7 linked regions of the Homo sapiens genome follow. The protein of the gene in region 1 interacts with the protein of each later gene in a biochemical or structural test. Each region holds a gene or a part of one and is shown on either strand. Other genes may lie near its edges. The genes, in order: NOTCH3, BTF3L4, C8orf76, MAML1, MPPED2, SPTLC2 and CPNE6.

Region 1 (2,277 bases):
GAGCTGGGAACAGACAAGGGAAGTGGCTGGGCAGGCAGTGCCCCAGTGGTGGTGGCCATGGCCCCAGTGGCAGTGGCTGGGCTAGGCGTGGATTCGGACCAGTCTGAGAGGGAGGGAGGTGAGGGGCTGGCCCAGTGCTCAGGGGATTCGGGGGATGGGGTCAGGTAAGGGTGCTCACTGGGAACCCGCAGGAAGCGGGCCTTTGGGGGGCTGCTGTGTGCCCCAGCCGCCGGGTACTCCTCGCCATGTCCTGGGACTGCCAGGTAAGGCGGGGGCCGCTCCTGCGGGGAGACGGGGGTCCCTGGGTTGAGCAGCTGGGGTCCCGGCGCCAGTGGCAGCAGGAACGAGGGGCCTGGAGGGGCAGGTGGGGGCAGCCGGGCCCAATCGAGGGGCACAGCCACAGGGTTCAGCAGGCCCAGGCTGAGTACACATCCTCCAGGGGGCTGGCGCCCTAGACCCGCCCGGCCTGGGCCACCAAGCTGTGCCAGAGACACTGCAGTGGCAGTGGCAGCTGCATAGGGCCCCTCAAGGGGGAAGCCACCAGGGGAAGCAGGGGGCCCACCGAAAGGCCGCGGGGAGTCCAGCGAGTCCACGGGCGACAGCGTGACCGAGCTGTCAGCCAGGGGGCCCGGGCAGGCCAGCGTCAGCTTCTTGCCCCGCCCCCGGGGCCCCTGCGGCCCCAGCCCCGCCTTCCCGGGGGGCCTCCTGCTCTTCTTGGACCCCGACTGTGCCGCTTTGAGGCCAGGGAGGAAGGCCCCTGGAGGACAGAGCAGAGGCCCCAGGCCGTGGGGACCGGGGGGGCTGCGGGGCCCACTGGGTTGATCCAGCAAGCGCACGATGTCCTGGTGCAGTCTCTCCTGGGCTACGTCCCGCGGCAGCCTGTCCAGGTGGTCGGTGATCTCACGGTTGGCAAAGTGGTCCAACAGCAGCTTGGCAGCCTCATAGCTGCCCTCGCGGGCGGCCAGGAATAGGGGGGTCTCCTCCTGGGGGGCCAGAACCCACAGAGGTCAGCGAAACCCCAGCTAACAGTAGCAAAGTCTTCCAGCCTCTTGGGGGAGCCCGAGAGCTATGAGTTTGTACACTGGAGCTTGACAGACCTGGGTTAAATCCCGGCTGTGCTGGGGGAGCCTGGACAAGTTCTTTCCTCTAAACCACATTCATCCATCACCTACTAAGTGCCAGAGGTCAAGGCCAGGACTAGGGTGAGTTAAGCGAGGTACTCACCTTAGGCATAACTTTTTTTTTCTTGTCTTTTTTTTTTTTTTTTTTTGACAGAGTCTCACTGTGTCGCCCAGGCTGGAGTGCAGTGGCGCCATTTCAGTTCACTGCAACCTCAGCCTTCCGGGTTCAAGCGATTCTCCTGCCTCAGCCTCCCGAGCAGCTGGGACTACAGGTGTGCACCACTACGCCCAGCTAATTTTTGTATTTTTAATAGAGACAGGGTTTTACTACGTTGGCCAGGCTGGTCTCAAACTCCTGAACTCAAGTAATCCACCCATCTCGACCTCCCAAAGTGCTGGGATTATAGGCATGAACCACCACACCCAGCCATTAGGCACAAAATTTAAGGGGCCCCCAAAAACTTTAGTCACCAAAGTAAATTATATTTTAATCCAATGTTTGGGGTTTTATTTTGTTTTGTTTTTTGAGAGAGTCTCACTCTGTTGCCCAGGCTGGATTGCAATGGCACTGTGCCACTGCTGACACCCAGTGGACCAAGGGCTGGGGCTCACCTTGCTATCCTGCATGTCCTTATTGGCTCCATTTTTGAGCAGGGCCAAAGTGGCTTCCACGTTGTTCACAGCCGCAGCCCAGTGTAAGGCTGATTTCCCTGGAGGATGAAGGGGAGAGAGGTCAGGACCAGGCACCTGTCCTGGGGCCCCCATGTCAGGGAGGCAGAAATTGTCTAGAATGTGGCCTAGGGGTAGAGGAGGCAGGCCTGCCGTGAATATCCAAGTACTTGTGTCTGGATCCATGTGTGTGCAAATCTGCAAAATGACTCTGTGCAATGGGGAAGCACTTTGTGTCTGTGTGTGTGTGTTTGTGTGTGTGTGTGTGTGTGCGTGCATGTGCATGACTGTTTATACACAGGGGGTGCTGTGTGGACCTCCTTCAGTTGAACCTAGGGTTGTGACATCCAATACAGTAGTCAGTCACATGTGGTTTTTATTTATCCATTTATTTATTTTTGAGGTAGTGTCTTGTTCTGTCACCCAGGCTGGAGTCCATTGGCACAATCTCAGTTCACTGCAACCTCTACCTGCTGGGCTCAGGCGA
Region 2 (3,548 bases), on another chromosome or scaffold:
TATTGCTAGAGTCTAAGGCAGCAGTCCGCAATCTTTTTGGCACCAGGGACTGGTTTCGTGGAAGACAGTTTTTCCACGGATGGGAGGATGATGGTTTTGGGATAAAACTGTTCCACCTTAGATCATCAGGCATTAGTTAGATTCTCATGAGGAGTGCGCATCCTAGTTTCCTCGCATACGCAGCTCACAACGGTTCGCCCTCCTATGAGAATCTAATGCTGCCGCTGATCTGACTGGCTGTGGAGCCCAAGCAGTAATGCTCGCTCATGCCCCCTACCCCACCTTCTGCTGTGCTGCCGTGTTCCTAACAGGTCACAGACTGGTACTGGTCAGTGGCCTGGGGGTTGGGGACCTCTATTATATGGGATACAAATTTAGGAGTTGGAATTGACACGATTTAGTGACTGATGGGATATGGGGGGTAAAGGGCATGCAGAAGAATCTAGGATAACCCTCAGATTCATGATTTTAGAGACTTGAGTATATGGTGGTACCACCAGCTACAAAAGTTAGGAAATAAGAATAGATTGGTGGACTGATAAGCTTTAAGACATATTGAATTTGAGGTGCCTGAGGATCATTCGAGTTGAACAAGCACCAAGCAGTTGAGCTATCCCTGAGTCAGGAATGCTTCACAAATGAGTGCCTATGTAAATAGTCAGTCCTTCAGCAACTAGATTTCAAGGCATCCTCTGCTGTCAGATCTCTCCTCCACTCCCACCGGAATTGCTGAGACTGAAGCCCCTACCTTACCTCTATAAGGCTGATTCCCTGAGTACTACTATAGGAGCTACCCAGAGATTGAAACCACTATTCCTTTCTCCTTACTCCTACCAGTTTTAGAAAGATTTAACCCTCAAGACTTAATAAACTGATCCAGGAATCCATTATTTTAAATAGTATTTCAATGGAAAAATGTATTTAGAGTTTCACAGTATCAATTTAGAAATGAACTTTTTCTTTCTCAGTAACTAGTATAATTTTCAACCTGTTTGCTCAGGCCAAGATTCTAAGCATCATCCAAATGTCCTCTTTTTCTCATATCCCACGTGTAATCCATCAGCAAAGTCATGTGGTCTCTTGTGAGAATCTGACCCCTCACCATCTTCACTGCCATATCCCTCATCTCTGGCCAGGACGGCTACAGGAGCCTCCTGACTGGTCTCTTTATAATCCATTTTCTACATAGCAACTTCAGTCATAAGTAATCAGATCAAGTCACTCCCATGCTTAAAACCTTTCAATGGCTTCCCATTGCAATCAATAAAATCTAGCTCCTGCCCATGGCATTCTAGGCTACATAATCTGGTCCTTGCCTATCTTTCTGATTTCATATTCCTCTTCCGTTCCCATTATTCACTCTGCTCTAGCCATACTGGCCCATTTTCTCTCTTCTAGAAAGGACAAGTTCAACCTTGTTTCATTCTGCTTTGATCATTCTTGCCCTAGTTATGGGTCTCAACTCATATGTTACCTCTTCAGAGGGGGCTTTCCTGGACCTTCTAATAAAGTATTGCTTTGCCCCTACTTAGTCATTCTTGCTGTGCTCTAGTTTTGCTTTTTTCTTAATAGTACTTAATCCCATTTGAAATTATCTGATTTGTTTATATATTTATTGATTTTTTTCCTCCTACTGTAATGTAGACATTAATTTTCAGTTATGTCCTAATTCCCCAAATTTCAGAATATCTTTAGACTACTGGCAGGGGGTGGTAGTTACTATAAGAAAAGATAATGTTTTAAAATTGTTATAAAGTATTTAAATTGTCTTGAAGTTATAAATTATGTTTTATTAGCAAACAGTATCTTGTGTTGAAATGACAAAGGCTGGATATTAGATAAGAATAATTCAACCTGAAAAAGCTGATAAGGAAAAAAAAGGAACTGGCTAGAACCAACCTTTAGAAATCTGCGTTAGGCTGACAATCACAACCTCTGAGAAGTCTTATAACATTAATCATTATTATTTTGTCCATTTTTTAATGTGGGTTTTAGATTATTGTGATACGTAAGATGTGATTGCAGTTGCCAGATGCCAGGCATGCTAACACTTCTGCTTCTGTTTGGTTATTTTTCAGGGTACAGCTCGCAGAAAGAAGAAGGTGGTACATAGAACAGCCACAGCTGATGACAAAAAGCTTCAGAGTTCTCTAAAAAAACTGGCTGTGAATAATATAGCTGGTATTGAAGAGGTATGATCACTTTGCAAGTTGTTAAATTGTGTGGGTACATGCACAAATAATTGTCTGGACCTTTCAGATGTAAAATATCAGCTTAGAAAAATCTTTGATATTGTCACTCTGATGTCTTTGAAGGACTGTGGCACTTTGATTTTTGTATGAAATTAAATGATGGTCAAAAAAATAATTTTAGTAGACAGTTAAGGATTTTCATCATACTTTTCAAGCTCAAGATATTTGCGTATATGGCAAAATTATGTAAGTGTTCTTGAATATTAATATAAAATATGTCTCTAATAATGTAGAAATAAACCCCAACATTTCCTCAGATGAGATAGACCTTTTTTTTTTTTTTTTGAGATGGAGTCTCACTCTGTCACCCTAGCTGGAATGCAATGGCACGATCTTGGCTCACTGCAACCTCTGCCTCCCGGGTTCAGACGGTTCTCCTGCCTCAGCCTCCCAAGTAGCTGGGACTACAGGTGCGTGCCACCATGCCCGGCTGATTTTTGTGTTTTTAGTAGAGACGGGGTTTCACCATGCTGGCCAGGCTGGTCCCAAACTCCTGACCTCAGATGATCCGCCTGCCTCGGCCTCCCAAAGTGCTGGGATTACAGGTGTGAACCACCGCGCCCGGCCAGACTTTTTTTTATTATTTAAGATTTTGGACTCATGGCTCAATAGAGGTAGACTTTTTTACCCTAATGCACCTGTATATTTTACAGAGCCTCATTAGTTACTACCTCAGCCAAAAGGCTTTAGCAGTAGCTTTACATGGGTTAGATTTCTTATTAAAACTGTTTCAAAAATTGTTTAAAATGTATTAGTCAGCCGGGTGCAGTGGCTCACGCCTGTAATCTCAGCACTTTGAGAGGCCTAGGCAGGCAGATCATCTGAGGTCAGGAGTTCAAGAGCAGCCTGGCCAACATGGTGAAACCCTGTCTCTACTAAAAATACAAAAATTAGCTAGCTGTGGTGGCACATGCCTGTAATCCCAGCTACTCGGGAGGCTAAGGCAAAAGAATCACTTGAACCCAGGAGGCGGAGGTTACGGTGAGCCAAGATTGTGCCATTGCACTCCAGCCTGGGTGACAGAGTGAGCATCCGTCTCAAAAAAAAAAATTGTATGTCAGTTTATTGTATTTTGATGACACTATTTTTCTCAAATATGAGACCAAAGATTAATGTTATTCCAGAAGATACTTAATAAATAACAACAACTACTTGTGATGTTACCACCTAGATGCACCTCTGCCTGATGATTCCATTTGTTTTTTTGTTTTTTAAGACAGAATCTCACTCTGTCACCCAGGCTAGAGTGCAGTGGTGTGATCTCTGCTCACTGCAACATCTGCCTTCTGGGCTCAA
Region 3 (3,548 bases), on another chromosome or scaffold:
CTACTTGGGTGGCTGAGACAGGTGAATTGCTTGAACCTGGGAGGAGGAGGCTGCAGTGAGCCAAGATCGCACCACTGCACTCCAGCCTGGGCAACAGAGCAAGACTCCATCTCAAAAAGAAAAAAAGAGCTGATGTATATGTGCGCTGGCTAAACCGACCAGACACTAGATGAGCACTGCATGTACACGATATATTGTTTGTCTCCTTAGCATCGAACCCAGAACCAGGAAAATAGTAGGACTGAAATGTTTGTTGAGTGCTGAGTGGATAAATGAAAAGGAGTCACTTACTACCAGAAAGCCATTTTCTTACCACAGTTACCACACAGGAATACCAACCACTATAAGAAAATGTTGTAATTATTTAAGAAATAAGTCCTACTATAAATTTTATCCAAAAATCATGAAAAGAGGTGAATGAATTTCAGCAGAAATTGTGAACAGAAAATGTTCGAATCTTGATGGCCACCCCGGGACTTGCTGTCTATTTTGTTCAATGTTACATACTGCGACAGGTCCCCCTACAGAATGTGAAAAGACAGTAACCACCGTCACAAAAAAACAGATATGGGCCAGAGCTAGTAACAAAAGGCGAGGGTCCTCAGGTAGAGAAGAAATTTTAAAAAACAAAACAAAACACAGCTTACCAGGAAATGAGAATGCCGTGCAGACACGCAAGGTCCGCTGAGATCATGTGTGAAGCCGACAGAAAGGGGCGAACCCCACGAGCCCGCTTTCCACCTGACAGTCCTGCCCAACAGGTTGCCAGGACGCCTGATGCACAGTTCTGAAAGTCCAGGGTTTTCTGACTGGTGTTTCTCCTGCCTAGTAACCATCCCCAGCACCGGAGACCTGGCATCGGCTGATTGGCAACAGATCCTTCTCTGAGCCACCGAAACAGATTCCCTAAGCTAGAAGGAACCAGAGATGACCCAACCCCTGCCAGGAATCCAGCTGCCACTACCTTCAACAATCAAAGAGGAGGAGGAGGAAGCACAACAGTGACGTGCAAGAAACGCCGAGCGAGCAGGACAGTAGTAAAGGCTACAGAAAGGCACCGGAAGGGCCAAGAGCACTGTTAATTTGCGGACTGGGGAAGACTAGAAATGAACACAATGAAATCCCATCAAGTTAACTGCTCATGCAAACGCTTAGGAAGTCGATTTATCTATCTTTCAGCTTAAGCACTAACCCCCAATTAGTAGAGAACAGAAAAGAAAGAACAAAACACAGCTGTTTTCCATGTTCTTAGAACAATTACTGCCAAAGTTTCCTCGAATTGCAAGAGGCTGAGGTCCTATGCAGTGAAGGCTTAAGCAAACAAAGGTTAGGGATTTCTCTTAGTTAATGAGATGGCAGATGTCAGCTCAATTGTGTGCATACGTTAGGCTGATCTGATCGCTGGGCGGTACATCCACAAAGCTCAAAATCGGTGCCACAGTGTCTCCTTAATTTCCTCCGAGGAAGAAAACTAGTCCATTTAGACTAATTCCCATATAAAATTTACACAACAATCAATACAAATAATGCCTTAACCTAGAAACAAAAGCAATAAAATCTAGAACTGGAAAGAACTACCTTTCTTTATCCCTTAAAAAAAAATTCCGCTTTAGAATGTGTGGAAAAAGGCAATAAAATTTTTTTTTAAAGAAAAAGAAGGCCGGGTGCAGTGGCTCACGCCTATAATCCCAGCACTTTGGGAGGCCGAGGCGGGCGGATCACAAGGTCAGTTTGAGACCAGCCTGACCAACATGGTGAAACCTCGTCTCTACTAAAAATACAAAAATTAGCTGGGCGTGGTGGTGCATGCCTGTAATCCTAGCTACTCAGGAGGCTGAGGCAGGAGAATCGTTTGAATCCGGGAGGCGGAGGTTGCGGCAAGCCGGGATCACTCCACTGCACTCCAGCCTGGGTGACAGAGTGAGACTCTGTCTCAAAAAAAAAAAAAAAGAAAGAAAAATTCCCTTTTTCTTCAGCGAGGCTGCCGAGCTCCAGATGCAGAGATGCAGATCTTTGTGAAGACCCTCACAGGCAAGACCATCACCCTTGAGATCGAGCCCAGCAACGCCAAAATTCAGGACAAGGAGGGCATCCCACCTGACCAGCAGCGTCTGATACTTGCGGGCAAACAGCTGGAGGATGGCCGCACTCTCTCAGACTACAACATCCAGAAGGAGTCCACCCTGCACCTGGTGCTGCGCCTGCGAGGTGGCATTACTGAGCCTTCCCTCCGCCAGCTCGCCCAGAAATACAACTACAACAAGATGATCTGCCGCAAGTGCTGTGCCCGCCTGCACCACCCCGTGCTGTCAACTCCCGCAAGAAGCGCGGCCACACCAACAACCTGTACCCCAAGACGAAGGACAAAGAAGGCTCTTCCTTCCCCAAAGAGCGGCGTCCTGCCCAGGCCTCATGGCCCTGGGGCCTCAATAAAGTGTCATAAAGTGTCCCTTTCGTTGACTGGGGAAAAGGAAAAAGAAAAAAAAATTCTGCAAATTCCACTTAAAAATAAAAAGGACTACTAAGTGTGGCTTGGTAATGAGTATTTAGTCATTTTGGGGGGGGGACCTTTTTTGGCTTAGAAAAATACTGTTCATTGTAGAAATTTTGGAGAACAACGTCTAAAAACAATCTAACGAAGAAAACAGATCACTCATAGTCCTTCCACACTGAATGTTACTCCTAACAAGAGAAAAACCTCTGCAAAGGAGATTTTCAGGCAATACAGAATTTTGAGCATGACACAAGAAAAATATTACAAGAAAATGATTATGTCTAGGTTCCAAGTTGTTCATCATAATAAAACTCTCACACCCCTGACAATTTTCTTCTGCTTATCCAAACCCATAGATTTTGCTACTAGCAAGAAGTTTGTTTTGTTTTCAAAAAATACACCATTCGACCACCCTTATAGGAATGTGTGTGAAAATAAGCAATAAAATCACTCACCAAGTTTGCAGCAATCTCCAGCGCCTCCATATGCCTACCCAGGTGAGCCAGACACCGAGCCTGACCTTCCTGGACATCCCTTTTCATGGCAAAATTGGTTGATGACAATTTTTCAGAGATACTGGAATACTCCTGCAGTGCTTTCTGGAAATTATTTGTTAAATAAAGAAATGAAAGGAGGAAAACATAACAGAAAAAAGGATTCAGAATAGGGGTGATTTTTTTTCCTAGGTGGAAAGTAATGTTATAACTGACCAATGAATTACATGAATATTTAAATGAATTAAAGAAGATTTCACTATTCTAGTGATATGGTTTAGCTGTGTCCCCACCCAAATCTCATCTTAAATTGCAGCTCCCATAACCCCCACATGTTGTGGGAGGGACCTGGTGGGAGGTAACTGAATCATGGGGGTGGGTTTTTCCCATGCTATTCTCATGGTAGTTAGTCTCAGGAGATCTGATAGTTTCATAAAAGGCAGTTCCCCTGCACACACTCTCTTTGCCTGCCGCCATGTAAGACGTGACTTTGCTCCTCCTTCACCTTCTGCCATGATTGTGAGGCCTCCCCAGCCATGTAGAACTGTGAGTCCATTAAA
Region 4 (3,548 bases), on another chromosome or scaffold:
AGAAATCAGCACCCTCATACACCGCTGGTGGGAATGTAAAATGAGACAGCCTGTGGGAAACAGTCTGACAGTTCCTCCAAAGGTTAAACATAAAAATTACCATGTGATCCAGCAATTCCACTCCCAGGTATCTACCCAAGAAAAATGAAAACAGATGTCTATATGAAAACTTGTACATGAATGTTCATAGCAGCAATACTCATTAACAGCCCAAACAAGAAACCCAAATGTTCATGAACAGACGAATGAATAAAATGTAACATGTCCATACAATGGAATATTATTATCAAGAGGAATCAATTGCTGTTACCTAGCACATGATTGAAAATGACATAACATAAATATAAAATGTCCAGAACAGACAATTTTTTTTTTTTGAGATGGAGTCTTGCTCTGTCGCCCAGGCTGGAGTGCAGTGGCGCGATCTCTGCTCACTGCAAGCTCCCCTCCCAGGTTCACGCCATTCTCCTGCCTCGGCCTCCCGAGTAGCTGGGACTACAGGCGCCCGTCACCACACTTGGCTAATTTTTTGTATTTTTAGTAGAGACGGGGTTTCACTGTGTTAGCCAGGATGGTCTTGATCTCCTGACCTCGTGATCCGCCCACCTCGGCCTCCCAAAGTGCTGGGATTATAGGAGTGAGCCACTGCGCCCAGCCCAGAGCAGACAATTATAGAGACAGAAAGTAGATCAGGAGCTGGAGAGGCAGGGTGGATGGGAGAATGGCTGCTCATGGGTATGGGATTTGTTTTAGGGTAATGAAAATGTTCTAAAATGGATTGTGGTAATGGTTGCACAACTCTGTGATATACTAAAAATGACTAAATTGTTCACTTACGTGGGTGAAGTGTATGCTGTGTGAGTTACATCACAATAAAGCTGCTTTTCTTAAAGGCAGAACTGAGGCAGGGATTGTCCTCAATGAACCTCACTGTCTGGAGCCAGTTCTTATGTCTTAAAGATGTAATTTAAGGCCAGGCGTGGTGGCTCACGCCTGTAATCTCAGCACTTTGGGAGGCCGAGATGAGTGGATCACTTGAGGTCAGGAGCTCAAGACCAGCCTGGCCAACGTGGTGAAACCCCATCTCTACTAAAAACACAAAAATTAGCCAGGCATGGTGGTTCTTGCCTGTAGTCCCAGCTACTCGGGAGGCTGAGGCAGGAGAATTGCATGAACCCATGAGGTGGAGGCTGCAGTGAGCCAAGATCGCACCACTGCAGTCCAGCCTGGGTGACAGCAAGACTCTGTCTCCAAAAAAAAAAAAGAACTCTCACTTGTAACCCTTAGTGCCTGCACACTACACTTGCTAACCAAGCGAGTGAACTGTGTTTCCCTCAGGGATGACTTCACTTCCCTCTTCACGTTCTGGCTTATAACAGGCTCTGTAGTGGCAGCAAAGCTGACTCCATAGTGGAATGACAGACACGTGAGCTCAGTGGCTTGGAAGCTGCTGACCTGAAACATAGGAAAATGTCCCTTCCACAAACAGTTTTAGCCCCCGAGTCTGCCTTGAGTACTCTCCACTAAGTGACACGAAGCAGCTTCTGACAAGACTACCCCTGTCTGAGAAATGCCACATTCCTGGAAAGATGTTTTTAAAAGGCAAAGCACTCTAACAACAGGCACGCAAGTCTGCGCAAATCCACACGCACAAGCAGAAGGTGTGACTGTAGCAGTGACGCAGGGTGCAGGCAAAGGTGGGAAGCGGTGGTTTCCTTCCACTTTTCTTTTTACCTGTTCCGCGAGAAGGTGCTGTTGCCTCTGAAGGAACTGCTGTTGCTGTAAATGCTTTTGCTGCTGCTCCCTTTGTTTCTGTTGGTCCAAAAGCAACTGATGCTGCTTCATTACAGCGGCCTGTTGCTGGCTGCTGAGATAGGGGGAGCTGTTGTGGGAGCTGGCCACGGACACGGCAGGCGGCTGGGTCCCAACACTGGTAGCCTGGGCTTGCACAGGGACACTGGAAGGGTTCTGCTCCTGTCAACACAGATAGGGGACTGTGAAGTCTCTAAGCTCTGATCAGACCAAATAAGCTCCATCCAGTGAATTCAAGGTTCACTCTCTTGAAGCCAAGTCTCTGCTTCCCTTCTGACCTCGAATAACAACCATCCCACAGGGCTGGAGCACAGACCAAAAGTGATGACATCTGAGCATACAGGCGCCTAGCAACGAACAATTACTCCATAGGTGTTAGTTTTACTCCCAGTGATTCACCAGTGACAAAGGTATGGTTTTACGTTAAGCATATGTAAGCTTTCATATTTGCACACAATAGTTCCAGTAAGCAATCGAGGCTTAGAAATGCTCACTTATCAGGACATCTGAGTGCAGAGCGGGCCAATAGGGGAAGAATACTTTTTGTTTTTTTTCAGACGGAGTTTCGCTCTTGTTGCCCAGGCTGGAGTGCAATGGCACGATCTTGGCTCACCGCAACCTCTGCCTCCCGAATTCAAGCGATTCCCCTGCCTCAGCCTCCTGAGTAGCTGGGATTAGAGGCATGTGCCACCACACCTGGCTAATTTTGTATTTTTAGTAGAGATGGGGGTTTCTCCATGTTGGTCACGCTGGTCTCGAACTCCCGACCTCAGGTGCTCCACCCACCTCGGCCTCTCAAAGTGCTGGGATTACAGGCATGAGCCACTGCACCCGGCCTAGGGGAAGAACACTTTGAAGGGGGCTTTGGTCAATGGAGACCACTCTGTCCCATGTGCATAAACCTTGGATTTCGGGCTATCCCTGAACGACCCGAAACTGTACATCTGCGCAAGCATTTTACTGGAAGAGACTGCTTAGCTTTTGTCAAATACCCATCCTCAAAAAATACTGAGAATCAATGAGAACTTTAACAGATATTCTCTGTCAATATATAGACCACAAGTGAGAGTCATGTCAAAGGCCACCACAATATTATCCCGTCATTACTGACACTTAGAAGAAAAGGGGAACTTAGCAGAAGATAGGCAAAAAGCAATCATTATTTAAACCAGTTCAAATTGTTGAGCTCCTTTCTAGTTATTCATTCTAAGATTCTGGTATAATTTCTTCACTCTAATCACCAGAAGCTTAAGAACTACTGAGAGTGCTTCGTAAGTTGCAAAGTGCTACCCAGATGGCAAGCACCCTCACTGTGTGCAGCTGAGCCTCTCTTCAGGGGGTGCTGAACGGCGTGAGACATCTTACTGGCTGAAGTAAGTGGAATTATCAGCACTGGGAGATGCTTAAATGGCTTACAGTTTTTGGCTATTAGAAATAACCACACAATGAATATCTTGGATATAACTTTTTCTTTTATTTTGGATTATTTCTTTAGATCAACTTGTCGGGTATATAGTGTGTCAATGCATATGAACATTTTACAGCATGTGAAAAATACATAATGTCAAATGACTTCCCAAAAGCAGTGAGCTCATTTACACACTCTCATCAATACAGGAGTGTGTCTATTTCCTCATGATATTACCGGCACTGGGCTTTTTAATTTGCAAAATTTTAGCATGTATTACAAATTCACGTTCACTGCAGGCTTATCTGCACTAGCGGAAAACAGGAAA
Region 5 (2,863 bases), on another chromosome or scaffold:
CTTCAGTGGTTCTTCTGGGTGATGTCTTTTTTATTTTCTCTGGTTTTCGCCACCCTTCTGCTATCCCCTCTTGGTTGCCACAGCATTTTGTGGGTGGGCATCATTACAAAAGTGAGGAGGAGATGGTGACTGCTCTTGGGGAAAATGAGAATGTGCAGTGATTACTCTGTCATCAACGGTTTCCCCAAACTCACTATCACAAACTTGCCCAAAATAAATCCACAGCCTTAACTCCAGTCTCTCTGTTCCTGTAGAAATTACAACAGCCAAAGATGAAACCTAAGGCAAGACAGATGACAGCATGATGGAAGGAAAGAGTACACTGAGTGCCTTATCGATCTATCTGCCAGCCTGTGAATGGTGGGTAATAAAAATTTATTGAAAATTAGGGAAAAAAATCACTTATTCTAATTCTTCTGAAAGGCATTACTGATGTTGCATATGAATAAATCCCTCCTTCCCCAGGACGAAACTACCATCCTCCACCATCCAACCCTCTAAACAGCACGAATTTAAAAATCTTGCAATTTTATTTGCATATAAAGGCCGCTAGATATAGAATATCACAATAAATTTAAAGAAACAACTGCTTTCCTAAATTTCATTAACAAAGTAACATAAAATAGAATAAAGCTCAACAGCATTTACAATGGGAAAACAGAAATGACTATTAGCGACAATATTTTGTGCTAGCGAAGATTGCATCGACACACAGTGCAAAATGGGAGAGGGGAGAGGAAGTAAGAAGACAACTTGGGGTATTTAAATAGAAAGGACAACTAAGCCTTATTTTAGTTAGCTTCCATTGCATCCATTTAAGTCTATACATGCCTGTAACTGTACCTAGATTTAACTCAAGCTCTTTAAGACCTTGAGCTCTGAGAGAATGTGTCAGTTCCTTCCGACTTCTGATGTGTTGCTATACAGCATCCCTTTGCAGTTGTACTGTCCTTGACAATAATAAACTCCTAACGTAGTCATAATACACAAAAAATACTTATATATATAAACCCATATTGAAAAGGAGTCTGCATGTTCATTTTTTTAACCGTATGAAATACCTGCTCTTGACAGATTCCATTTCTGTATTTTTAAAGCTGAAATAATTTAAAAGAAACAAACAAACAATGAGACCTTGTATAACCACAATAGGAATCTCACTAGTTAAACCATCCTTTAAATGACAGCCATTTTCTTCTCAATGCAGCTTTCTTTATAGTGAGAGTATGAAAAGAAGTCTTTTCCATGCCTACTTCTGTTGAGAAGATTGCTATAAATTGGGACCACATCTGCAAAAAAGAAGCATTACCAAGAAAACAACAACAACAAAACATTGAAAATTAAAATATTTCAAACAATACTCTTAAACAGTTGTGCAAATCTGTGTTGGTTTTTAAAACACTGCCTGTTTCTTATTTTTTTTTCTTTCAGCTTAAAGCATATTAAAATAAGACTTTTATCACTTTTTAAAAGAAAGCTTGGCTGTCCTTTGGCGAACACTAACAATTTACAATGGCATGGCCTTTGAGAAAACAGAAGTCATTTTACAAATTCACAATGTTCCTCTGATTTCAAATGGATGCCCCATTTAAAATAAAATAAAATAAGAAGCACAACCTCTAGCATCATTTGTGTTCCAACAATTTACAAAAAGAACTCACAGGGTTTGTAAATAAGTAAGAGAATGTAAGTTTATAATTAGAAAAATGGCAGTTTATAGACCTTCCCTCACATTCCAATAGGGCATTTAGAGCTTCAGGAACCCTGTGGGTTTGGAAGGTCAAATATAATTGGAGGGTTGGTCGGTTGAAAGCTGACTGTACACGTCGAGGCATTGATGTACGTTGTGTAACCGTCGGTCATGATGCCATAACCTGTGGGGAGAGCGTGTCACATTTACTGTAATATATACAAATGAGAGTGATGGAATGTAGGGCTGTCAGGCAAGGAAAACAAAAAATTTTTGTCAGTGGGCAGTGAGATGAAATTCAGTTGAGCCTCCTCAGATATAATGACTTTCAGAAGCTACTGCCCAATTTTACTCTATTTTCTTTAAATGGTAGAATCTTCTCCTTCAACTAAGAGCAATTTTTTTTTCTTTATTTAAATGCTAAACTTGTTGAAGAAGGGCTGTGATTTCTTTACTAGGGAGAATAAAGAAAAACTTTTTTCCTCCTTTTAAAATAGGATTTTCATTTCAAAGCCTTGTGTTAACTATTGAGTTCTAGGGAATAAAATGAGTAATATAAGGATTACTCCTCAGGGGCAAACACAACTAAATTCCAAGTGGGATATGGGGCAGGTGAGGGGGGAAAGGATACTGCATTGAGAGTTAAGAAATGTAGACACTCAATTTACTTATTTATGAAATAATCTCTTAACTGCCTTTACGAAAGTCAACCATATATGATTTTTGAATTGTGTGGCTTTAATACTAAGTTCCATTTCATTCAAAAGTGTCAGCTAATCACATGTCGAAGTGATGTGTAGAAACATCACCCTAGGTCACTGTTTCCTAAGCTTACCTGGATACTAGATCAAGCAAAAACACTTCCCATATGCAATATAAACCTTTTGTGATTTATTGGGAGAAAGTTGTTTCCCTAGGTCTTTGGTATATATGTTCCTTTGATAATTTTCAATATGATAAAATGTTTAGCATGTTTGCAAGTTGGCACATTTCCCTGAATACCTTATATTTGCCTTATAGCCTCTTCAACTAAGATTCTATGTTGGTATCAGGCTCTTATCGCATATAAAAACATAGCTGTGAAAAAAATAAAATTACCAAGATATAGAGAAGTAACTGAAAAGGCTTTTTTCCACATTGGCTAAAATTTCTCCAAGTAAAGCCTGTGGAGAA
Region 6 (3,548 bases), on another chromosome or scaffold:
CAAAACAAAACCTCAGTTAGATACCATTTCACACCACTAGGATTGCTAAAATAATAAACCAGGTATTAAGTGTTCATGAGGATATAGAGAAATTAGAATCCTGATACATTGCTGGTGGGATTATAAAATGATGCAGCCACTTTAGGAAACAGTTAAACATAGAGTTAGCATGTGGCCCAGTAATTCTACTCCCAAGAAAAATGAAACATATGTTCCTGCAGAAACTTGTATATTAATTATAATAGCAGCATTGTTGATTGATTGATTGATTGATTCAGGGTGTTACTGTTACCCAGGCTGGCAGGACATGGCTCACCGCAGCCTCCACCTCCTGGGCTCAATCAATCCTCCCACCTCAGCCTCCCAAGTATCTGGGACTGCAGGCATATGCCACCATGAGTGGCAAAATTTTTTTTTTTTTGAGACAGAGTCTCACTCCGTTGCCCAGGCTGGGGTGCAGTGTGGCTCACTGCAACCTCCACCCCACTGGTTCAAGCAGTTCTCCTGCCTCCGCCTTCCGAGTAGCTGGGACTACAGGCACATGCCACCACGCCCAGCTAATTTTTTATATTTTTAGTAGAGATGGGGTTTCACCATGTTGGTCAGGCTGGTCTCAGACTCCTGACCTAAGTGATCCATCCGCTTCGGACTTCCAAAGTGCTGGAATTACAGGCGTGAACCACTGTGTCTAGCCCCACGTTATTTATAATAGCCAAAAAGTAGAAACAATCCAAATGTCTATCAACTGATGAGTAGATAAAATATGGTATATCCATATAAAAGGATATTATTCAGCAATACTACTGAAGGAATGCAGTACTAATACATGCAGGAGAATACTACATTGTTTATGGCCATGTGTTTATATAGTGAAAGTATTTAAAAATACAGGGGAATGATAAACACCAAATTCCCAATTCTTCTGAGGAGGAAAGGAAATATAGCATTTCCCCAGGACAGACTTCTTAAAAGGATTGGAGAACTACTTAAACATGTCAGATCTTGACACTGTCCTGATGGCCTCCTGTCACTAATAACAGAATACAAAATGGGGTTTACAAGGCCCACCATGAACTTTCCCATCCCTCTCTGACTTCATATCCTGCCAGGTCACTGCTTTCTAGCCAATCCGGGCTTTCTGATGTTCCCCAAACACATTGCCATCAAGCACCCCTCCCTGGGGCCTTATTATTATTATTATTATTATTATTATTATTATTATTATTATTTTGAGATGGAGCCTCAATCTGTCACCCAGGCTGGAGTGCAGTGATGTGATCTCGGCTCACTGCAACCTCCGCCTCCAAGTTCAAATGATTCTCCTGTCTCAGCCTCCCAAAGTGCTGGAATTACAGGCGTGACCTACCACGCCTGGGGTCCCTGGGGCTTTAGCCTTTACAGTTACCTCAGCCTGGAAAGCTTTTTCACAGAGTTCTCTTCCCTACTCCAAGTCCATCTGCTTACACCTTACCTCCACCCTGTTTAAAATGCTCTTTTTCCACGATTTTATTCTGATTGTAGCAGTGTGATCTGATACAGTATATCTATTTGCTTATCTGTTGTCTGCCTCTCTCACAGGAGTGTATTTCTAGTGCTCAGATCATGCCTAGCTCATAGCAGGGACTCAATAAGTATTGAATGAATAACTTTAATGTTTTATTTAATGGAAAAAAGATCTAAAGCATATAAGCTAAATCTTAAGTTTTGATAAAGCTAGATGTTGAATACAGTTTTATTTCTATTTTTTTGATGATAATTACTGTGTCATATTTCATACATACTCTGCTGGTTGACAAAAACTAGCTCCCTAAAATAATGTTACAGACATAAGTAAGAAATGGATTGTGGTGACACATAAGCTGTTAAAGAAACCCGTAGCCTAATTTATAGTGTATCAGGTTTGCAAGTGGTTTAAAACAATAGCGGTTTACTGAATGTTCTTACTAGCGTGAGGGGAGAGCTTGTGAGAAGTAGGAAGAGGCCAGAGAAGGTCCTGGGGTCTGGCACACTCTGATATGCTTCATCACCTCTCCCTAAGCTCTCCCTACAGGGCAGTGGGGCCAGTGGTGACTTTTGCGGCACCCTCTCCATTGTCTTACCAAGGGCTTCAGCTGTGAGACGCCGGTTGGTGCTACAAGGAAGGGGAAACGTGTCAGCTCTTTCCTCTGCTCTTTTCTCACATTGATTTCAAATGCCAAGAAGCTGGGCTGAGAAACCGGGCTTGTGATCCTGGTTGTACTGCAGTCCACCATGTGCTGGAGAGCTCTGCAGGTTGTGCTAAAGGGTAGTGTCTTTATTGCCTCCTGTATAAGCTTGACTTTTACATAGGCAAGCAGGTTATTTCCAGGACAACTAAATTAGTTGGTGCGAAACCTCATTTCCTAGAAACCCATTTTCTTAGTAGAGGAAACCCATATAACCATTTGTCTCCATGTAAGTGTAGCTAATAACATGAATAACAAAAATAGCTAATTATTTAAATAGCAAAAATAAGTATGGAAGATGAATTTGCAGTAAAATTCTAATATTAAGCCACTGATTATTTTAAAACAATCAGATTAAGTTGTAGTACCTCTGAAATAATTAAAGGAAAATTTGATTCTTAGAAAATCTCAATTCATTGGAAAGCCATGGAATTAATAAAATAAAAAAAGAAAATCTCAGGCAATATAAACTAAGGAATGGCAAATGGAAAATGTATTGATTGGTGGAAAAGTAATTGCGGTTTTTGACATTGAAAGTAATTACTTTTGCCATTACTTTTAATGGCGGAAACCATTTAATGGCAATTACTTTTGCACCAACCTATAAATAATTGGACTCTAGTTCCAACTTTGATATTTAGCTTTCCCATGACTGTTGACAAATTGCTTAATCTACTTTCCTTGATTTTGTCAGTCAAATGAGGAGGAAGAGACAGCTTGAGAAACATTTGTAAGAGAAATGCTTATTACTTTGTATGTGTTTTTCGTCTTACATATTAAATATAAATTCCTTTAGGTGATATTCTTTAAAATGATTTCCTTACTTCCTTTTATATTTACATCCATTTTCTCTTAAAAAAACAAACAAACAAAATACTGCACAATTCTTGAAGACAAGGATTACCTCTTACCTCTTATTTGTTTCATGAAATATAGAGTACAATTTTTTTTTTTTTTGAGATGGGTCTTGTTCTATCACCCAGGCTGGAGTGCAGTGGCGCCATCATGGCTCACTGCAGCTTCAACCTTCTGGGCTCAGGAGATCCTCCTATCTCAGCCTCCCCAGTAGCTGGGACTACATTCATGCACCACCACATCCGGCTAACTTTTGAAAATGTTGTGTAGAGATAGGGTTTCACTATGTTGTCCAGGCTGGTTTTAAACTCCTGGGTCCAAGCAATCCTCCCGCCTTGGCCTCCCAAAGTGTTGGGATTACAGGCGTGAGCTCCTGTGCCCAGCCTAGAGTACAGTTCTTGACATATAGATAGAAATTAAGTATTTGTAGAATGAGTGGAAAAAAAAATGAAATGATTATGTTGATTTTGAGTTTCTCGGTGGAATAGG
Region 7 (4,099 bases), on another chromosome or scaffold:
GGCCTGGGCTCCTGGGATCTGTCTTGAGTGGGAGGCCTAGGAGTGACAGGGGAGTTGGGGGCCTGGACTCTGGGGTTCCAACCTTGTTGTCCAGCTTGTAGGCTCTGAAGGTGAGTTGCACATAGTCGTTTGTGCCTGATACCTCCTCGGCCACGATCTGCAAGGGGGATACAAGTGGCAGGACTCCCCTAACCTTACCACAAGGGCCACCCCATCCCCTTTCCCTTAGGTGGGGGTGGTCCTGGGCATGATGTCACCATAGGTGTCCATGCAGGGGCATTGAATACCTGGACCAAGGGTGAGTACAGGTGATCTTGCCTACCGTGATGGTGGACTTGCCCGCAGTCTTCCCATTCTTCAGCAATAATGGCTTAGTGACCTTGGTTTGTGACACAATCTGGGGATGGAGGTGGAGGGAGACCCAGCTGTGACATCCCCATCTGCCTTGGCCACGTACAAGGGATGGAATAATAAATGCTCTGAGTGTCTGCAAGGGTTGGCACTTTGAGTTGGGCTAGGGTTGGGCTCAATTTTTACAATAGTCTGAAGAGGGAAGCACTCTGACCACTCCTCCATTTTTTAGATAGGAAAACTAAGACTCAGAGAGGTTAAGTATCTTTCCTGAGGCTGCACAGCTAGTGAATGGCAGAGATGGGAGCCAAGGCTGGGTTGAACTAGCTCTAGAGCTCATGTTTTCTCTCTTTTTGGCTTCCAGAGGCAAAGCTGATGGAGGTAGGGTAGGGTAGCCGGGGAGGCCGGGAATGCAGACCTGGCCCAAGGTGCACTCCGTAGAGCCGAGGAAGGTATCATTTCGGGGGCTGGTGGCTCCGTCCTCGGCATCGAACACGTGGAACTGCAGGGGCTGCTTCTCCTCAAAAAAATACTCAAGGGCCAGCACCCGGGAGAAGACAGGGCTGGAACAGGAGCGAAGCACCTCTGTGCGCTCTACCTGTGGTAGTGGTTGAAGGGAGGCGAGGGCTGTCTGGGAACCGAGGATACTTTTCCCTGTCCTGGACTGCCCTAGTCATGCCAGCTCTTCTTGGGCCCCCACGTCCCCAGCAACCAGCTCTTCTCTTCCTAAGCTGATCCCTGAGCTTGGGGTGCTGCCTGCCCACTGGACTCTCAGTCCTCCGGGCTATCATGAGGCCTTTGGGAGCAACCCCACTGCCTCTGGGTCAATCTCAGGACCCTCTGGGACACCATCTCCAGGGTACCCAAGCGGCCTCGAGAAGGCGCCGCAGAGTCCACACATTTCCCTGCAAGGCTTTCACTGCTCCCACCCAGCCTCCCTCTTTCCCAAGCTTAACCCAGGTTAGTTAAGGAGAAACCTGAGCTGCTCTCACCTCCACCCACTGCTCATCAGAGTAGAGCTTGAGCAGCACGCAGGGGTGGGGTTTGGTGAGTGTGTCCCGGTCCAGGAGGCCATGGCAGGACACCCGCAGCTCCACCCGAGAGGCCCCCAGCGTCATGGTTGGGGGCTCAGGCACCCATCCCATCTCAGGGTCCGACATGTCACTGTGGGGACAGAGCAGGTGGCCTGGACTCTGGAAAGGGAACACCTGCCAGCAGAGGGGTCTATCCTCTAGGGTCCCTGGGCCCCACCCCTTAACCTCCTTCCCTAGACCCTGGGGCCTCACGGACCTCCTGCTTCCTCAGCTTCACCAGAGTTCTGAGCAGGGGAGGGCAGAGGACCTGAGCCTCCCACTCCTGCTCAGAAGCCCTGTGCTGCTGGCCTAGGTATGCGTGGATGGGGCTGGAGAGGGCTGAAGGATTGGGGTGGGGATGTTCCTGGCAGTCTTGGCTCCTAGGCCATCGATTGATCTACACTTTCTGCCGCCTCAGCACCTTCTGCTATTTCCCGACTGGTGTTGTGCCAGCGCTGCACTCAGTCTTGGCACGAGGGAGCTAAACTAGGGCAAGGGGGTGGGGCAGGGGGTGGAGAGGCCTCTGGAGTTCTGAAGAGGATGGGTCTCAGAAGTGGAGTCTGCAGTGGGCAGGAGACAGGTTGGAAAGTCCCCTGCTGGGCTATCCCTATCCACTCCCTACCCCCATTCCCCTTCTGGCTAGCTGATGGAAAAGGAGTGGTGGTGGGCTGGGAGGCAGGACCAGGGCTCTGCTGAAAGCTCCTTCAGGCTCCTGGCAGGAGCTCTAACTGTGACAAGCCTCACATCCCTCCCCACCTCCCCTGTTTTCACACTTCTTGGCAGCACTGGCACCGTCTCTTAGCGACAGGATTTTTGGGGAGTCGTGGCTCCCTCCATGCTGCCCGTGGGATGCACGCATGCCACCTTCCCCCAGCAGTGGTACCAAGCCTCGGGCTGAAGCAGGCAGGGGTATGCCGGCCAGAGTTCATGGCCGGTCAGTCCATCTATCTGTGTCTGTACAGATCTCAGGGTGAGGCTGTCTGATCCCATGTCATGCTTCCCCGAGTGAGTGTGCATTGGTGTGTCTGAGTGCCCCACCCTCCGTGTCTGTCCCCCCATGTCGTGTGTCCGTTTCCAGGAGGGTGTGACAGTTCCTGTACCTCCCTCAGAAGTGGGACCTTTCTCTGGCTGGGTATCTACCTCCCCACAGTGTGTGCCTTTCTGGATATGTGAGGGAGGGTCTGGGCTGGGGGAGGGGGGTCTCTGCCTTCCAGCCACAAGTCTCCCAGTTCTTGGGGGTCCCCGAGATAGGCAGGGGCTTGTGGTGGTGAAGGGATTGGGCAGGGCTGGGATCTCTCTGCGGGCTCCAGGAGATGTTGTTATGGAGACTGGGCCAAGCTGGGCTGGGCTGGGGCTGGGCTGGGGAGGAAGGGTGGGCTCACCTGGGCTCTCGGTCGGGGGCTCCTCTCTCCGGCTCTCTGGCCCTGGCCCTGACTCCCTTGCTGCTCCAGCCGCTGGCGCCGGCTCCAGCTCCGGCTCTGCTGCTATTTATGGGGCCTGGATGGGGAGGGGTGGGGGGGGGCGCAGCACCAGCTCCCCCCGCGTGGATGGATTGGGAGGGAGAAGAGGGAAGGGGCAGGGCCACAGCCTGGGAGGGAGCCACAGAACCGGGGGAGGAGGGCAGGCTGGGGGTGGCTTAGAGGCAGGACCCCCACAGACACAGTGACACACATCTTCCCCTTCACACTACACCCACACCCAGAATCGCAGAGATGCGCACATTGCAGTGGCATGCACATACACATTCAAACAGAGAAATGATGGCGACACATGCACCCACGACTCACAGGCTCACACATATCTTGACACACACAGGCGCCAGTACATAAACTCACTGTGACACCACGACAGTTACAGCCCCCGGCGGATACACATTGGGAAACATACCCCTTCTCACATCACTTTCAACATTGTTACACTAGCTAAGGATATCTGCAGTCACATATACAGGAACACTGGGCTGTCCTTGTCACACATGTACTCACTCAAACTAACCCGGAATACAGCAGGATGTGATCTTCCCGTGCTCCTTAAAAGCCATCACATACCTTGCTGAACGTCATAGCTTTGAGAATGATGTCCAGTTCCCTAGCCACCATTTTATAAGGAGACACAGGAAATGGACATAATTGCTTAAGGACACCCAACCTCATATCCTGGTCACATGAGGGCATCTGCTGAAGGACTGACTCCCAAGGCTTCTTCCCGGTGCCACAATGTACCCAACACCCCCCAAGATTCAACCCATATGGCCTTACCCTTGTGGGAGGGGCTGTGCCATGCACAGATCTTAAGGAAACAAAACAAGTAATTCCTGGTGAAATCAGTAAGTAAGGGAAGTAAGCAGTTGCCTGGGGAGCTGCAAACCACACATGAAGACATTTGGGCACATTGTGGTCTGCGATGAGTACGCAAGAGCATTTACCTTCGCCCTCCATCCCCTTAAGCTGCTCATGTATTAATATAGCAGCCATTTATTGAGCATCTCCTGGGTGTCAGGCACTGTGCCAGGTGCTGGGGCTACACAGGTGATTAAGACACAGCCTCTGCCCCTGGGGGAGGCAGATGTATATGGAACAGAAAGACAGGCAGACAGAGAGAGGATAAGCCAATACGCATACGCAATGAAGCGTGACAGGTGCAATGTTATGGACCTGCTCAGGATGCAGTGGGAG

What was found.
Region 2: the proteins of NOTCH3 (region 1) and BTF3L4 form a complex in vitro, tested with the Homo sapiens proteins (one study listed by BioGRID).
Region 3: the proteins of NOTCH3 (region 1) and C8orf76 form a complex in vitro, tested with the Homo sapiens proteins (one study listed by BioGRID).
Region 4: the proteins of NOTCH3 (region 1) and MAML1 form a complex in vitro, tested with the Homo sapiens proteins (one study listed by BioGRID).
Region 5: the proteins of NOTCH3 (region 1) and MPPED2 form a complex in vitro, tested with the Homo sapiens proteins (one study listed by BioGRID).
Region 6: the proteins of NOTCH3 (region 1) and SPTLC2 form a complex in vitro, tested with the Homo sapiens proteins (one study listed by BioGRID).
Region 7: the proteins of NOTCH3 (region 1) and CPNE6 form a complex in vitro, tested with the Homo sapiens proteins (one study listed by BioGRID).

What each region holds. Positions count from the first base shown.
Region 1 is NC_000019.10:15,160,732-15,163,008, forward strand, and holds part of NOTCH3 (neurogenic locus notch homolog protein 3 precursor), read right to left. Parts: intron 1,832-2,277; coding exon 1,734-1,831; intron 984-1,733; coding exon 1-983. UniProt on the Homo sapiens protein: Functions as a receptor for membrane-bound ligands Jagged1, Jagged2 and Delta1 to regulate cell-fate determination.
Region 2 is NC_000001.11:52,062,747-52,066,294, forward strand, and holds part of BTF3L4 (transcription factor BTF3 homolog 4), read left to right. Parts: intron 1-2,078; coding exon 2,079-2,192; intron 2,193-3,548.
Region 3 is NC_000008.11:123,234,849-123,238,396, forward strand, and holds part of C8orf76 (uncharacterized protein C8orf76), read right to left. Parts: intron 3,094-3,548; coding exon 2,950-3,093; intron 1-2,949. Other genes in the region: ZHX1-C8orf76 (zinc fingers and homeoboxes protein 1), read right to left, coding at 2,950-3,093.
Region 4 is NC_000005.10:179,767,276-179,770,823, reverse strand, and holds part of MAML1 (mastermind-like protein 1), read right to left. Parts: intron 1,975-3,548; coding exon 1,735-1,974; intron 1-1,734. UniProt on the Homo sapiens protein: Acts as a transcriptional coactivator for NOTCH proteins. Has been shown to amplify NOTCH-induced transcription of HES1. Enhances phosphorylation and proteolytic turnover of the NOTCH intracellular domain in the nucleus through interaction with CDK8.
Region 5 is NC_000011.10:30,409,713-30,412,575, forward strand, and holds the end of MPPED2 (metallophosphoesterase MPPED2), read right to left. Parts: intron 1,875-2,863; coding exon 1,756-1,874; 3' UTR 512-1,755; downstream 1-511. UniProt on the Homo sapiens protein: Displays low metallophosphoesterase activity (in vitro). May play a role in the development of the nervous system.
Region 6 is NC_000014.9:77,606,601-77,610,148, reverse strand, and holds part of SPTLC2 (serine palmitoyltransferase 2), read left to right. Parts: intron 1-3,548. UniProt on the Homo sapiens protein: Component of the serine palmitoyltransferase multisubunit enzyme (SPT) that catalyzes the initial and rate-limiting step in sphingolipid biosynthesis by condensing L-serine and activated acyl-CoA (most commonly palmitoyl-CoA) to form long-chain bases.
Region 7 is NC_000014.9:24,070,349-24,074,447, reverse strand, and holds the start of CPNE6 (copine-6), read right to left. Parts: upstream 2,807-4,099; intron 1,516-2,806; coding exon of another isoform or gene 1,512-1,515; coding exon 1,344-1,511; intron 950-1,343; coding exon 770-949; intron 398-769; coding exon 323-397; intron 158-322; coding exon 83-157; intron 1-82. UniProt on the Homo sapiens protein: Calcium-dependent phospholipid-binding protein that plays a role in calcium-mediated intracellular processes. Binds phospholipid membranes in a calcium-dependent manner. Plays a role in dendrite formation by melanocytes.